Linked DNA regions of Homo sapiens: all the other regions are linked to region 3. The links come from fine-mapping of genetic effects on gene expression. A gene starts in region 3. Each other region holds a variant in brackets. All regions are shown on one strand. Distances are between the middles of the regions.

Region 1 (5,221 bases), 50 kb after region 3:
TAGACCTGCGGTTGTCTGAGGAGAGGAAAACCTGATATGGGACGGCGTGAATCTTCAGTTAGAAAAAAAGCAGCTTTCGGGCCGAGTGCAGTGGCTCACGCCTGTTATTCCAGCACTTTGGGAGGCCGAGGCGGGCGGATCACGAGGTCAGGAGTTCAAGACCAGTCTGGCCAGCATAGTGAAACCCTGTCTCTACTAAAAATACAAATATTAACCGGATCTGGTGGTGTGCGCCTGTAGTCCCAGCTACTCGGGAGGCTGAGGCAGGAGAATCGCTTGAACTTGGGAGGGGGAGGTTGCAGTCAGCCGAGATTACGCCATTGCACTCCAGCCTGGGCAACAAAAGTGAAACTCCGTCTCAAAAAAGAAAAAAGCAGCTTTCTTTCTCTTTTTTTTAAATACAGATGGGGGGTCTCGCTATGTTGCCCAGGGTGGTCTTGAACTCCTGGGTTCAGGTGATCTCACCTCGGCCTCCTGAAGTGCTGGGATTACAGGCGTGAATCACTGCACCAGGCCTCAGGGCAGCTTTCTAGTAGGACTGGGAAATGGGGGGACTGGAAAGGTTAAGGAGTAAGTAGAAGGGATTCTGGCGTAAGAGTTTGTGGAGTTTTTCTGAAAAGAGGGCACCCTGGGACTTGGGGCTAAGGGGATAAGGAGAGAAATGAGGTAACAGAAGAGACAGGATTTGGGGTTGGAATTGGATACTTGTTCATAAGAGAATTTCCCGGAGGGAGGAGTGTGGATTTGGGGTAGGCAGTGGCCTAGAGATTATCGAGGACCCAGGTGCTGGAAAGAGGACTTCCCATTGCAGAGACTTGTGAAGAAAGGAGTGGGCCTGTGTGTGTGTCTAGAGCAGGAGGGATCGTGGCAGGAATGCCTAGCAAGAAAGGGTAGTGGGTTAGTAGTGACCTGGTGGTCTGGGCAGAGAGTCATCTCTGAGAGGAAAGCGAATTAGGTGCTTTGGAGCGTAGACTCTAGACTAAGACAGACTTCGTTTCAAATCTGGCTTAAAGATATTGGCAAGTCACTTCACCTCTGTGGGCCTGGTTTCCTTAATGTGTAAAATGGGGTTAATCAACAAATAGTGTGTTCACAGCCCCTCCAACCCCTGAGGGGTGTTATGAATGAGATCACATGTGAAGGGCTTATCACTGGGCCTGCCTTTTATGAGAAGAGGGATGTTTTAGAGAATGGAGAAGGACCCTAGAATTATAGCTTCTCCAGGAGGGGCTGCCTCTGTGAACACAGGAGAGAGATGCTGGGGAAAAGAGGCTTTGTGGGAAGAGGAGCATTGTGCTTGGAGCCTGGAAGCAGCAGAATAGTTTGAAAGGGCCCCATATTCCAATTAAGGAGATAATGCTATTTCTTCCTCTCTCCCTTACTTGCTACAACAAAGTCCTTTGAGCCCCCTTCATGCCTCCCTTAAGCCCTCCTTCAACCTTGGTAAACAGACCGGTAGCAAACCACATGACCTGTGACTTTCCTCCCTTTGGGCTGCACCTGGTTTGTGCCCAGATGTATTTATCCTCTGAGAAGGAATCCGATCAGTTAGCAAGTGGCAGAATAGTCTCTCCTTCCCTTTGGTTCTGGCTCACGGCTCCTGGCATAGCCACTGGTAGGGCCCTTGGGGCCCTAACTGAGAGCTAGCCCCTGGGGAGGAGAGCCTGTATGCTGCCCATCCTAGCTTTCTAAAGTTCTCTCTGGGTTTGGCTGCAAGGTTCTTGAGGGAATTTCTGGTTTTAGTTCCACCTCTGAGCTTTCACACGTGTTATCCCAACCCCAGTAACATTCTCCATTCTCATCACTGAGTCATTACCTGTGTATCCTTTGAATCAAGGCTTATCTGTTATTTTCCAGGTCCCTTTCTTCATTCCTGGTACTACTTTGTAGCCTTCAACACAATCATATTAAATTTTTGTGTGTCTTTAAGATTTGTCTGTCTCACTAAACTGAAGGCTTCAGTGGGGCAAGCTTGTCTTCAGCTGTATCCCAGGCTCTGGAGTATAGTATGCATGCCATGAATAGTTAATATTATTATTCTTACCACTCTTAGTTGAGCTCCTGGACCTGCAGATGCCTTCTGGATGCTTTGGTCCAGGGTTCTTCATGAACCGCCCCTCTAATTGGCCATTTTTAATTTTGTTTTAAGATGCCATGGACAATATTACCAGGCAGAACCAATTCTACGATACCCAAGTCATCAAACAAGAAAACGAGTCAGGCTACGAGAGGAGACCACTGGAAATGGAGCAGCAGCAGGCCTATCGTCCAGGTAGGAAAATACACATGGTTCATCTCTTTGGATGGAAACAATCTACATGGAGCCTTTACCCCCTGCTTAGAGCGGGTCTTCCCAGAGAAACTGTGCATCTTTTTTCTTGGGCAGTTCATCTAAACATTGTCACTCTGGCAAGAATTGTTTAAAGGAAAGATCTCAGTCCTATTTCCAAGTGTTGGGAGAGGGGAGGTTCCATGGTATCTGTAAAAAAGTGATGTTAGTATCAGCCGGGTGTGGTGGCTCCCTCCTGTAATCCCAGCACTTTGGGAGGCCGAGGCAGGTGGATCACCTGAGGTCTGGAGTTCGAGACCAGCCTGGCCAATATGGTGAAACCCGTCTCTACTAAAAATACAAAAATTAGCCAGGCATGGTGGCAGGCACCTGTAATCCCAGCTACTTGGGAGGCTGAGGCAGGAGAATCACTTGAACCCAGGAGGCGGAGGTTGCAGTGAGCCGAGATCGCGTCATTGCACTTCACTCAGTCTGGGCAACAAGAGTGAAACTGCATCTCAAAAAAAAAAAGATGTTAGTATAAGCACCCTGGAGAGTTGAGACCCCTAGACTAATAC[T/G]TGAATCTTATTTAGAATCTTAGAATGGGGGAGCCAGAAAGAGCCTTCTAAGTCTAATCTGGTATTTCTCATGTTCTGAAGATTATTGTTTCAGGGGATATTATTAGGGGATTCTCAGAAAAGGGTTCCTTAGCCAAATGTGTCTGGAAACTGTAGCATGTGCTATATCGTCTCTTGGAAATTCACTGTGCTTGTTAGAACATTAAAGGCTCTGAGAAGTCCAGAATTTAAAAAAAAAAAAAGAAAGTGTGTGTCAGGCCTCAGGCCAGGTGCGCTGGCTCATACCTATAATTCCAACACTTTGGGAGGCCAAGGTAGTAGGATCATTTGAGACCAGGAGTTCCAGACCAGACTGGGCAACATAGTGAGACCCCTTCTCTACAAAAAATTTAAAAATTAGCCAGGCATGGCTATGACTGACTACATGCACACACCTATAGTTAAAGCTACTCAGGAGACAAAGGTAGGAGGATCACTTGAGCCCAGGAGTTTGAGGCTGCTGTGAGCTATGATTACACTACTACACTCCAGCCTGGGTGACAGTGCAAGACCCTGTCACGAAAAAAAAAAAAAAAAAAAAAAACCTAAAATTAAAAGTAGGTTAGAACACAGTGGCTCATGCTTGTAATCCTAGCGCTTTAGGAGGCCAAGTCAGGAGGATCACTTGAGCCTAGGAATCCAAGACTAGCCTGGCAACATAGTGAGACCCCTGTTGTCTTTAGAAAAAATTAAAAATTGCCTGAGCATGGTGACATGCTTGTAGTCCCAGCTACTCAGAAGACTGAGTCAGGAGGATCACTTGAGCCCAGGAGTTCAAGGCTGCAGTAAGCTATGATCGTGCACGGCACTGCAGCCTGGGCGACAGGAAGACCTTGCCTTAAAAATAAAAACAGGCCGAGTGCGATGGCTGTTACATGCCTGTAATCCCAACACTTTGGGAGGCTGAGGTGGGAGGATTGCTTGAGTCCAGGAGTTCAAGACCAGCCTGGGCAACATAACCCTGTCTCTATAAAAAATAAAAATATTACCTGAGCATGGTTGCACAATCCTATAGCCCCAGCTACTCTTTTTTTTTTTTTGAGACGAAGTCTCGCTCTTGTTCCCCAGGCTGGAGGGCGATGGCGCGATCTCAGCTCACTGCAACCTCCGCCTCTCGGGTTCAAGCGATTCTCCTGCCTCAGCCTCCCAAGTAGCTGAGATTTCAGGCGCCTGCCACCACACCTGGCTAATTTTTGTATTTTCAGTAGTGACGGGGTTTTACCATGTTGGCCAGGCTGGTCTCAAACTCTTGACCTCAGGTGATCCGCCCGCCTCAGCCTCCCAAAGTTCTGGGGTTACAGGCGTGAGCCACTGAACCCGGCCAAGTCCCACCTACTCTGGACCCTGAGGTGGGAGGATCACTTGAGCTAGGAAGTTGAGGCTCCATGAGCCATGATGGCAGCACTGCATTCCAGCCTGGGCAACAGTAAGCCTCTGTCTCCAAAAAAATTTTTTTTTTAATTAAATTTAAAAACCTTGTGTCTTCTTGGGCTGGTGTTGCTGAAAATATTTTTTTTAATAAAAAAATAGACAAAAAACCTTGTGTTGTATCGTTTAAACTTAGGATTTCCCAATCATGTTAAGTATATGTCTTTACAGAACAAAGTTCCCCATGATGCCAACTCTCCCTTCCCTTTTTTTTTTTTTTTTTTTTGAGATGGAGTCTCGCTCTGTTGCCCAGGCTGGAGTACAATGGTGTGATCTTGGCTCACTGCAACCTCTGCCTCCCAGGTTCAAGTGATTCTCCTGCCTCAGCCTCCTAAGTAGTTGGGACTACGGGCGTGCCACCACACCCAGCTAATTTTTTGTGTGTTTTTAGTAGATGTGGGGTTTCACCATGTTGGCCAGGATGGTCTCAATCTCCTGACCTCATGATCTGCCTGCCTCGGCCTCCCAGAGTGCTGGGATTACAGGTGTAAGCCACTGCGCCTGGCCTCTCCTCCCCATTTTATAGATTGAGGAGTTGGCTTGTCCGATGGCAGAGCTGGGGCTACAACCTAGCATACTTGCTCCCAGGCTAGTCCTCTTGGTTAATAAGCAGCATTCCTTATCATTTGTGCCTTACTATTTGGAAAGCAGGGTCCCACTATTGAGAACTGATGGAGCCCGGACTGACCCCCAGTTTTGTGCTGCTTTTACTGTGTTGTGGCCTCCCAGTGCCTTTTCTTAGTGTATCTGGTTGATTTTGTCTAACGCCATTCTGGTTCATCCACAAAGTTAAATCCCCAGACATTTCTTGTGGGTGGCTCAGAACTTTACTGAATGTAGGTTAAACCGCAGATTTGTGTCAGGCTCTGTGAGACTTGTAGGATCATTCAGCCACAGGAGAATATTT
Region 2 (5,221 bases), 21 kb after region 3:
ATGGCTTTGAATGCGGCCCAACATAAGTTCGTAAACTTTCTTAAAACATTATGAGATTTGTTTGTGATTTTTTTTTTTAACGCATCAGCTATCGTTAGTGTTAGCGTATTTTATGTGTGGCCCAAGACAATTCTTCTTCCACTGTGGTCCAAGAAAGTCAAAAGATTGGACACCTTTGAGATTGTTTAACACACATATTCACCATGTAACCACCATCCAAATCAAGACACAGACCCTTCCAGTCCCCAAGAAGTCTCCCTCAGGCCCCAGAGATGGCCACCCTTCTGCTTCTAGAACATTGCTTTTGCCTGTAGTATAATGTCATATAAATGGGGCCTCACAGTATCGTGCTATTATTATGATGATCATTACTATTATTTGAGACAGAGTCTTGCTCTGTTACCCAGGCTGGAGTGCAGTGGTGTGATCTTAGCTCACTGTAACCTCTGCCTCCCAGGTTCAAGTGGTTCTCCTATCGCAGCCTCCCGAGTAGCTGGGATTACAGGCGAGCGCCACCACATCCAGCTAATTTTTTACATTTTTGGAAGAGATGGGGTTTCACCACGTTGGCCAGGCTGGTCTTGAACTCCTAACCTCAAGTGATCGCCCACCTTGGCCTCCCAAAGTGCTGGGATTACAGGCGGGAGCCACCGTGCCCAGTCTATTTGCGTTATTATTGTCATCACACTATTATTATCGGTGCTGACCACCCGCCATGCACTGTGGCATCCTTTGGGCATAACTACACTTAATCTTTAAACAATCCTGTAAGGCACTTGATCCTCTAAGGCCCCGTGTGCCCAAGGAAAAAACTGAGGCTCAGAGAGGGAAGAGTCTTGCCAGAGGTGGCTTTTGGAAGTGGTGACAGAACCACATTGTATACAGCCAAATGATCTCCTTGCTTTGCAAATCCAGGTGCCCGTGTTATCCTAGCATGGCACTGCAACACACACGCACCCTTGAAAAGTTGTGTAGTCACACCAGACCACCACCACTGGGAGCTGTGTGACCATCTCGTGTGATTGCTTGGCTGTCCCGTCCTCACACCCTTGCCTCTCCTCAGGCTGTGCTGTCAGACGATGGGATGGGCATCCAGGCGGGAGAACCAGACCCCCCAGAGGAGCCCCTCACCTCGCAAGCATCCGTGCCCCCCCATCAGCTTCGGCTAGGCAGCCTCCATCCTCACACCCCTTATCACATCCGCGTGGCATGCACCAGCAGCCAGGGCCCCTCATCCTGGACCCACTGGCTTCCTGTGGAGACGCCGGAGGGAGGTAAGAAGGGTTGGGGAGGGACACGTCACCACTGCCCCACCGGACCTTGCTTATATCAGTGCCACCCCCATTGTCCCCTTTCACTCCTTTACCCCTCATGGCCTCAATCTCCTTCCCATCCAATCTCTGACCCCTCAGCAGCACTGCCCGCTGGCCTCTCTCCCAGCCCTTCTCTCCCCTGTGCTTCCTCTCATGGGAGGCCTGCACGAGTTGCCCACGTGTGTGCCCTTGGCACCCTGCACCCACTTCCTGGGAACAGGGGAGGGGGTCAGGAAGAGGTGGGGGTGCCAGCTTCCCCTCTTCCCTGTCCTCCAGTGCCCCTGGGCCCCCCTGAGAACATTAGTGCTACGCGGAATGGGAGCCAGGCCTTCGTGCATTGGCAAGAGCCCCGGGCGCCCCTGCAGGGTACCCTGTTAGGGTACCGGCTGGCGTATCAAGGCCAGGACACCCCAGAGGTGGGTGCTGCTGGTGGGATTGGAGTGGAGTGGCTTGGGGAGGAGGGAGGAGAACATATCAGGGCAGACATAGATGGTTGTGAAGGTTGGGTAGTACACAATTGCTCTATGCCTAGGGGGCACATTCAGGGAAGGTTCACATTCACATTCTGGGGAGAATAAGGGGGTCTAAGGGAGGGCATGGGGAATGGCTGTTTTTGAACCACTGCAAAAGCATTTCAGCAGACTCATATTTACTATATAACGATTTTACAGCAGATAGTTATATAGCACCTTGGGGAAGGGGTACCTTTTCCTGATTTTCACAAAGGCACTCCTATCAGGGCTAGCAATACCCTGACATAGGGAGGGAGGATGGAAAGGGAAGCTAGAAGGGGATGGAGGGATACAGGTTAAAGGATGAGGATGAGAGATGAAGGGGAGGACGAGGAAGGATGAGGAGTTGGAGGATGGGGAGAGCGTTTTGAGAAAGAGATGGGGCATTGAGCCCGAGAGTGAAGGCTTAACAGCTGGGGGGTAAGGTTCTACCCTGATGCCACTTCTGGACCTCCTAGGTGCTAATGGACATAGGGCTAAGGCAAGAGGTGACCCTGGAGCTGCAGGGGGACGGGTCTGTGTCCAATCTGACAGTGTGTGTGGCAGCCTACACTGCTGCTGGGGATGGACCCTGGAGCCTCCCAGTACCCCTGGAGGCCTGGCGCCCAGGTAAGTCCAAAGCCATGCCCAACCTGCTTCAACCCTGTCTCTCCCTGACAGCCCTGACTTACTCCTTGTACCTTTCAGTGTTACCGCAACTTAGGCCCTGTTCCTACCCTGAGCCTTACTGAGAGCTGCCCTCACTCCCTTACCCATGCCAACCCCTCACTCCCTTACCTGTGCCACGGCCTCACTCCTTTACCCGTGCCACACCCTCACTCCCTTACCC[G/A]TGCCACACCCTCACTCCCTTACCCGTGCCAAACCTTCACTCCCTTACTCGTGCCACACCCTCACTCCCTTACCCGTGCCACACCCTTACTCCCTTACCCGTGCCACGCCAGTCTTGTCCTCTCTGAGCACATCTCCTCTCTGTCCTTTCTTCTCACAGGGCAAGCACAGCCAGTCCACCAGCTGGGTAAGGGCTTCCACACCCCATCTCCTCCTTCCCTACCCTCAACACCTAGTGGGGGCACTGTCACCATGCATACTCATTGCACATCCCTTTCATGTTTCTCTAACTCATCACTCTAACCTACTTCTTGAGTTTGTGTGGTCCTTGATGGAGGTGCCTATAATGGCCTAGCATAGCACATTGTAGGTATTCAGGCAATGACAGATGAGTGGGTGGATGGATGAACAAATAGATGGATGGATGGATGGATAGATATATGGAGGGTGGATGGGTGGGTGGGTCAATGGATGAATAGAGGATGGATAGGCGGGTGAACAGATAAATGACTGGATGTCGAGTGGATAAATGGATGGGTAGATGGATGGGTGGATGGATGGATGGGTGGATATATGGAGAATGGATGGGTGTGTGGGCCAATGGATGAATAGAGGGTGGATAGGTGGGTGAACAGATAAATGACTGGATGGTGAGTGGATAAATGGATGGGTAGATGGATGGGTGGATGGATGGGTGGGTGGATATATGGAGGGTGGATGGATGGATGGTTGGATATATGGAGGGTGGATGGGTGGGTGGGTCAATGGATTAATAGATGGGTGGATAGGTGGATGAACAAAAGATGACTGGGTGGTGAGTGGATATATGGATGGGTAGATGGGTGGATGGATGGATGGATGGATGGATGAATGGATGGTTGGATAAATGGATGGATGGACAGATGGATGGATTTGTGAGTGGATGAATGGATGGGTAGAAAGGTGGATGGATGGATGAATGAGGTATCCTCCTCACATCCATCCCTCTCAAATATTTCTCTAACAATTCTCAAACATTCCTCCTACACCCATTGTCCCCTCTGGGCACTATTATGGTTCACTCTTGTAACTCAACCCACTAGCCTTCAATACTCCTCACATCCCTTCCTACATTTCTTCACATACGCTTTCCACGCTTATTCCACCCTCCTTTCACATATATCCCATTATAATCCGTTCCTCCCACATGACCCCAAAGGCCCATTGCACAACACACTTCTCATTCACAAACTCTGCACACCTTGTATGCACTTACCATACCTTCCACATTGCAAACACTGAAAAACATTGTCCACAACTTTCCCACACCCGATTCTCCTTGCATGCTTACTGCACACTCCATAGACATCATTCCCTCACCCTTCACTAATCCCAACCCATCTCACTCTGCACACTCACCCTGAACCCCTTGCATACTCAGCACATAATGATCTTTATTTCTTACACACTCCATTCCACCCCTGCCCTTTTTACACCCCCTTTCTGTGCACCCCATACTTCTCATCTGCCCTTCTAACATCTTTTGCATGCTCACTGCACACTTCTCTCACACTGCAATTACATCCTTAAAATTCCTTGCTCACTCCTTGTATCTAAGACTTCACGAATACTCTTCCCACTTCACACACCCCCAACTTTTCCAGCAGCCATCCAACCCTGTATATGCTTACCATGCCCCTTTGGATATTTATTTCACCCTCATTCCTGGCTTTATGGAAACCATTGTGGCCGGGTGCAATGGCTCACGCCTGTAATCCCAGTACTTTGGGAGGCCTGAGACAGGTGGATCACCTGAGGTCAGGAGTTCAAGACCAGCCTGGCCAACATTGGCGAAAACCCATCTCTACTAAAAATACAAAAATTAGCTGGGCCTGGTGGTGCGAGCCTGTAATCCCAGCTGCTCGGGAGGCTGAGGCACAAGAATTGCTTGAACCTGGGAGGCGGAGGTTACAGTGAGCCAAGATCATGCCACTATACTCCAGCCTGGGCAACACAGCAAGACTCTGTCTCAAAAAAAAAAAAAAAAGAAAGAAAGAAAGAAAAAAAGAAAGAAAAGAAAAAGAAAAGAAAAAAAAATTAGCCAGGTGGCACAGACCTGCAGTCCCAGCTACTCAGGAGACATGGTGAAACCCTGTCTCTACCAAAAAAAGAATACAAAAATTAGCTGGGCATGGTGGTGCACACCTGTAATCCCAGCTACTTAGAAGCTGAGGCAGGAGATTTGCTTGAAACTGGGAGGCAGAGGTTGCAATGAGCTGAGACCGGGCCACTGCACTCCAGCCTGGGTGAAAGAGTGAGACCCTGTCTCAAAAAACAAACAAACAAAAAAAGAGACAAAGAAAACCCTTTTGTAGTCATTGCATTCTCTTCAAAAGATGTTCCTTAGTCCGCCCTCCTTGCACACGCTTCATGCACCATCCTACACTGCAAGGATCTTCTTCCCCACTCACCTGCTTATCTACACTCTAGTCCACCCTTCTTGCACAATCATCACATTTCTCACACTAACCTATGCTGCTTGAGATTTCTCCACACCCATCTCATGTTCATCTAGCCCTCTTGGCACAC
Region 3 (5,221 bases):
CCGAGCGTGGTGGCTCACACCTGTAATCCCAGAACTTTGGGAGGCCGAGGCAGGCACATCACCTGAGGTCAGGAGTTTGAGACCAGCCTGGCCAACATGGTGAAACCCCATTTCTACTATGAATACAAAAATTAGCCAGGCATTACGGTAGTTCCTGCAGTCCCAGCTACTCAGGAGGCTGAGGCAGGAGAATCTCTTGTACCTGGGAGTTGGAGTTTGCAGTGAGCCCGGATTGCGCCACTGCACTCCAGCCTGGGTGACAGCGAGAGACCATCTCCCCAACCAAAAAGAAAAAAAGAGATCGGGCTGGGTGCAGTGGATCACACAGTGGGTCACGCAGTGGGTCACGCCTATAATCCCATACTTTAGGAGGCCCAGGTGGAATGATTGGCCAGGCTTACCTCGTGATCCACTCGCCTCGGCCTCCCAAAGTGCTGGGATTACAGGCTTGAGCAGCCACGTCTGGCCCCTAAAACAGTTTTTTAAAATTAGCCAGGTGTGCTTGCACACATAGTCTTGGCTACTCGGGGAGGCTGAGGCAGGAGGGTCACATAAGCCCAGGAGTTTGAGGCTTCAGCAAGCTATGATGGCGCCACTGCATTCCAGTCTGGATGACAGAGCAAGAAGACAGAATGCTTGAACTGGGAAGTGGAGTTTGCAGTCTGCTAAGATACAGCCACCGCACTCCAGCCTGGGCGACAGAGTGAGACTCTGTCTCAAGAAAAAAAAAATGCCACAATAAGGAATTGTCCCCTTTATGGCAGGCCTTTTACAGGGCGGTGAAGATGCAGCAGTTCCCAAAATATACCCAGTCCCTTCCCCCGCAGAGCCCACAGGCCAGTGGGAGGAGACAGATGTGAGACACATAATCATGCCAATAAATATATAATGACAACCCAGGCAAAGTGTTGCCAAGGAAAGGGACAGCATGTTGGGAGTGAACAATATGAGGACCTAGATTGGGCTGGGGGGGCCAGGCAGTGATGCGATGGAGAAGGGATGATAGAGTTGGGGACAAAGTGCTGCAGGAGGTTGCTCCAAGTCCTCTGAGGGGGCTCTTTGGGTGAGAAAGCGAGAGAAGCCTGGGGAGGCGAGGGGAGGGTCACAGAAACATAAGGAGTTTAGGGTTCTGCTGAAAGGTTTGGGGCAGAGGTGGGAAAGGGTTTGGTTTGAGATTGGGAAGAAGCCTTCTGACTGTTGAGTGGGAGACAGGTTGGAAGGAGCAACAGAAGCCAGCAGCCCATGGCCGGGCACAGTGACCCACGCCTGTAATCCCAGCCCTTTGGGAGGCCGAGGCGGGCAGATCACGAGTTCAGGAGTTCCAGACCAGCCTGGCCAACATGGTGAAACCCCGTCTCTACCAAAAATACAAAAATTAACCTGGCATGGTGGTGCACACCTGTAATCCCAGCAACTCAGGAAGCTGAGGTGGGAGGATCACTTGAACCCAGGAGATGGAGGTTGCAGTGAGCCGAGATCGAGCCATTGCACTCCAGCCTGGGCAACAAAGCAAGACTGGGTCTCAAAAAAAAAAAAAAAAAAAAAGACACAGCCCAGGGAGACAACGGTGAAGGGCCCTAAGTGGCCAGTGACAAGGAGCTGGGAGCTTGCCCTGAGGGCAGCAGGAGGCCATGGGCAAGCAGAGAAGGGACAGGGTAGGATTTGACTTTCAGAAACAGTCCTCTGGTTGCTAAATGGGAGAAAGGAGTGACAGTAGAGGCAGGAGAAGGCAGGATCAGACGGGGGTGCTGGGAAGGGGCAGGTAGAAGAGACATCAGGAGGCCAAACAGATAGGACTTTATGATGCACCGTAGGTATACCAGTACCCAAACACAGGTGGCCAAGAGCAGAGGGATAGACGCCCAGCCTCCTCCTCACAGACATCCAGGCATGCAGAGCCCTCCACGTGCCAAACACACAGGGCCGAGGAATGGAAGTGCAGCAGAGCCGATACGCAGGCAGCAGATCTGCAATAACCAGGACACACAGTCCCACCAGAAGGAGAGAGCAGTGGAATGATCAGGGCTCACTGCAGCCTCGATCTCTTGGACTCAAGCGTTCCTCTCACTCCAGCCTCCCTAGTAGCTGGGACCACAGGCACACGCCATGATACCTGGTTAAGTTTTAATTTTTAAACTTCTTGTAGAGATGGGGGTCTCAGTGCATTGACCAGTCTGGTCTCGAACTCCTGGGCTCAAGCGATCCTCCCACCTTGGCCTCCCAAAGTGCTGGGATTACAGGAGTGAGTTACTGTGCCCGGCCAACAACTATTCTTATTCCCATTTTACAGATGGACAAACTGAGGCTCAGGAGGCCAGTCACTTGCCTGTAGCCCACAGTTAGTGGTAGCACTGGGATTCCAACTTGGGTCCCCTTCATGTCGCCTGTATTTGGTGTCCCATTTAGGCGTCCATGCAGGTTTTGGCGTGTCTGAAGATCTGTGTCTCCCCAAGTAAGTGTCCCCCATGGATGCCCACCCAGCCGTGTCCTCCTGTCTCTGAGGTTTCTCCAGGAATCGAGCTCCTGGCCTGGCTTGTCTGAGTGTGTCTGTGGGCCAGTAGCATGCCCCTGCCCGTCTGGGTCCCTCTGCGTGTCTCTGCTTGTCCTAGCCTGTGTGTGTCAGTGACGTCTAAGAGTGTGTGTGCGTGCGTGCGTGCGTGCGTGTGTGTGTGTGTGTGTGTGTCCTTGTCCGAGGAGCCGAGAGAGTGAGGGGGAATGAAGGGCCAAGGAGGCCTGGCTGGGGCTGGGCTGGGGGTGGAGGCGGGGAGAGGGGCGTCACGGCCTGAGCTGAGAGGGGAGTGGAGTTCTGGAGGAATGTTTACCAGACACAGAGCCCAGAGGGACAGCGCCCAGAGCCCGGATAGAGAGACACGGCCTCACTGGCTCAGGACAGGGGGCACAGCCACCAGGGTCCCCTTCCCCCTCCTCAGCTCCCTCCCTGGCCCCTTTAAGAAAGAGCTGATCCTCTCCTCTCTTGAGTTAACCCCTGATTGTCCAGGTGGCCCCTGGGCTCTGGCCCTGGTGGGCGGAGGCAAAGGGGGAGCCAGGGGCGGAGAAAGGGTTGCCCAAGTCTGGGAGTGAGGGAAGGAGGCAGGGGTGCTGAGAAGGCGGCTGCTGGGCAGAGCCGGTGGCAAGGGCCTCCCCTGCCGCTGTGCCAGGCAGGCAGTGCCAAATCCGGGGAGCCTGGAGCTGGGGGGAGGGCCGGGGACAGCCCGGCCCTGCCCCCTCCCCCGCTGGGAGCCCAACAACTTCTGAGGAAAGTTTGGCACCCATGGCGTGGCGGTGCCCCAGGATGGGCAGGGTCCCGCTGGCCTGGTGCTTGGCGCTGTGCGGCTGGGCGTGCATGGCCCCCAGGGGTGAGTGATGGGGGCTCCTTGGGGCAGGGATCCCCTCGGAGGGGCTGGGGCAGGGGTAGGAGGTGGGGGATGATGGCAGGTGTGGGGGGCCTGGGCTGGCTTAGGGAGTTTCCTTGGGACCACAGAAAAGGGACTTCAAGGGAGGGAGACACAGACTCAGAGACACCAAGTGCGGCAGAGGGAGAGAAAGACTGAGAGAGGAACTGAAGGGCAGGGGGGACAGAAGAGAGGACCCGGAGAGACAGACAGACAAGGAGAAGCTGAGGGCAGGGGTGGGGGCTGGACCTGAGAAGGGGGCCATGGGGAGAGGGGCTGAGCTGAGGGTCGCCAGGAAGGAAGAAATCTTTCCGAAGGGGCACCGAGTCAGGCAGTGGGATGAGGAGGGCTCTGGAGCCCTGGGGGAAAACGCTTCTCCCTGCCAACACCACCCCCCTGACCCGCCACTTGTCCCTACCCCACCAGTCCACTCCATCTCTGGGGAGGAGGCTCTCACTTTGTCTCTCTGTCTCTGCCTCCAGCTCTGCTATCTCTGTGGGTCTCTGTTTCTCTCTCTTTCACAGTCTCTGCCTTTATCTCTCCCTGCTCTCTGAGTCTCTCTCTCTCTTCTCAGCCTCCCTCTGTGACTGTATCCCCCCTCCGCCCCCACCTTTTCTTCTCTCTTGAGGGCTGTTTCTTCATTTTTTCTGTCTTGCCTTGTATCTGTGCTCCTCTCTGTCTCATCTCCCCTGCCTTTCTCTGGCTTCTCCCTCCGCCACCACCCTTATCTCCCCCCACCACCACCCTTATCTCTCTCCCCCAACCCCTGATTCTTCCCCTCCATCCACCAGCACCAGCGCGACCTGTTAAGTCTCTAGAGACCTAAGAGAGGACGGAGGGGGCAGGGGCTGGCCCTGCCAGGCAGTGCAGGGCGTGGGAGGCTGCCAGATCCCGAGCCTCCTTCCCGACGGGATGGACGCTAGATCCCAGTCCCTTGGGAGGGCTCCCGTCCTCCTCTCAGAGCCTCCGCCCTCCACCCCACTCTGAGGTCACTCTGCAACTATGTCGGCCTAAGGGCCTGGCGGGGTCCTGGCCGCCGGTGGGCAGGCAAGGACAGGGTGGAACTGAGGGCCGGAAGGAGCTGGGGGGTTCCTAAGCTAACTCTTCCCATCTCCCCTCCAGGCACGCAGGCTGAAGAAAGTCCCTTCGTGGGCAACCCAGGGAATATCACAGGTGCCCGGGGACTCACGGGCACCCTTCGGTGTCAGCTCCAGGTTCAGGGAGAGCCCCCCGAGGTACATTGGCTTCGGGATGGACAGATCCTGGAGCTCGCGGACAGCACCCAGACCCAGGTGCCCCTGGGTGAGGATGAACAGGATGACTGGATAGTGGTCAGCCAGCTCAGGTGTGTGGCCACATCCCCGAATCCCACTCCCACCTCCGTCACACAGAGGGCAGAAAGCCCACCTGGGTGGGAACCCCAGTTTGACCACTTGTCAGCCGTGCGGCTTTGAGCATGTGATGGAACCTCTAGGTTTCGTTTTCCTCTTCTGCAAAATGAGTTAATAATAGGACATACTTCGTGGTTGTCATGAGCTTCCAGACTGGACACCCTCTTTCCGTTCTGACAGACCCCCTCCCAGTGTCCAGCTCTGACCCTGAACCTCTCTGTCTCTCCTCTTGCCCTGTCAGAATCACCTCCCTGCAGCTTTCCGACACGGGACAGTACCAGTGTTTGGTGTTTCTGGGACATCAGACCTTCGTGTCCCAGCCTGGCTATGTTGGGCTGGAGGGTGAGCTCTGGGGTCAGGGGTCCTGAGGGGTCAGAGGACATGTGGCGCTCATAGGTTGTGGGAAGTCAGGAATCCTGAGGGGTCAAGGTCAAAGGG

Which allele goes with the higher level. Alleles are on the strand shown, and positions count from the first base shown. SD is a standard deviation of normalised expression in the study named. Not every link is listed here.
As copies of A replace G in region 2, the expression in monocytes after LPS of the gene that starts at base 3,102 in region 3 goes up (moderate effect, 0.41 SD a copy in Quach 2016).

The links. PIP is the estimated chance that this variant, and not a neighbour inherited with it, causes the effect. A credible set is the group of variants that fine-mapping cannot tell apart.
Region 1: its variant is the best candidate, but not a certain one, in a credible set for the expression of AXL in thyroid (GTEx, PIP 0.66).
Region 2: its variant is the best candidate, but not a certain one, in a credible set for the expression of AXL in monocytes after LPS (Quach 2016, PIP 0.54).

Annotation. Positions count from the first base shown.
Region 1 is chr19:41,266,074-41,271,294 of GRCh38, forward strand. It overlaps HNRNPUL1 (heterogeneous nuclear ribonucleoprotein U like 1), which reads left to right. Exons shown (of 15, transcript NM_007040.6): 2 at 2,150-2,272. Among named protein-coding and RNA genes, the nearest start is that of HNRNPUL1, 4.3 kb to the left of the region's middle. The variant T/G (reference allele first, on the strand shown) is at 2,848.
Region 2 is chr19:41,236,881-41,242,101 of GRCh38, forward strand. AXL (AXL receptor tyrosine kinase) reads left to right here. Exons shown (of 20, transcript NM_021913.5): 7 at 1,064-1,274; 8 at 1,590-1,729; 9 at 2,284-2,434; 10 at 2,814-2,840. Among named protein-coding and RNA genes, the nearest start is that of AXL, 20 kb to the left of the region's middle. The variant G/A (reference allele first, on the strand shown) is at 2,655.
Region 3 is chr19:41,216,122-41,221,342 of GRCh38, forward strand. It overlaps AXL (AXL receptor tyrosine kinase), which reads left to right and starts at 3,102. Exons shown (of 20, transcript NM_021913.5): 1 at 3,102-3,356; 2 at 4,515-4,737; 3 at 5,025-5,125. The coding sequence starts at 3,272. RefSeq lists an enhancer at 2,243-3,067 and a silencer at 2,676-2,815.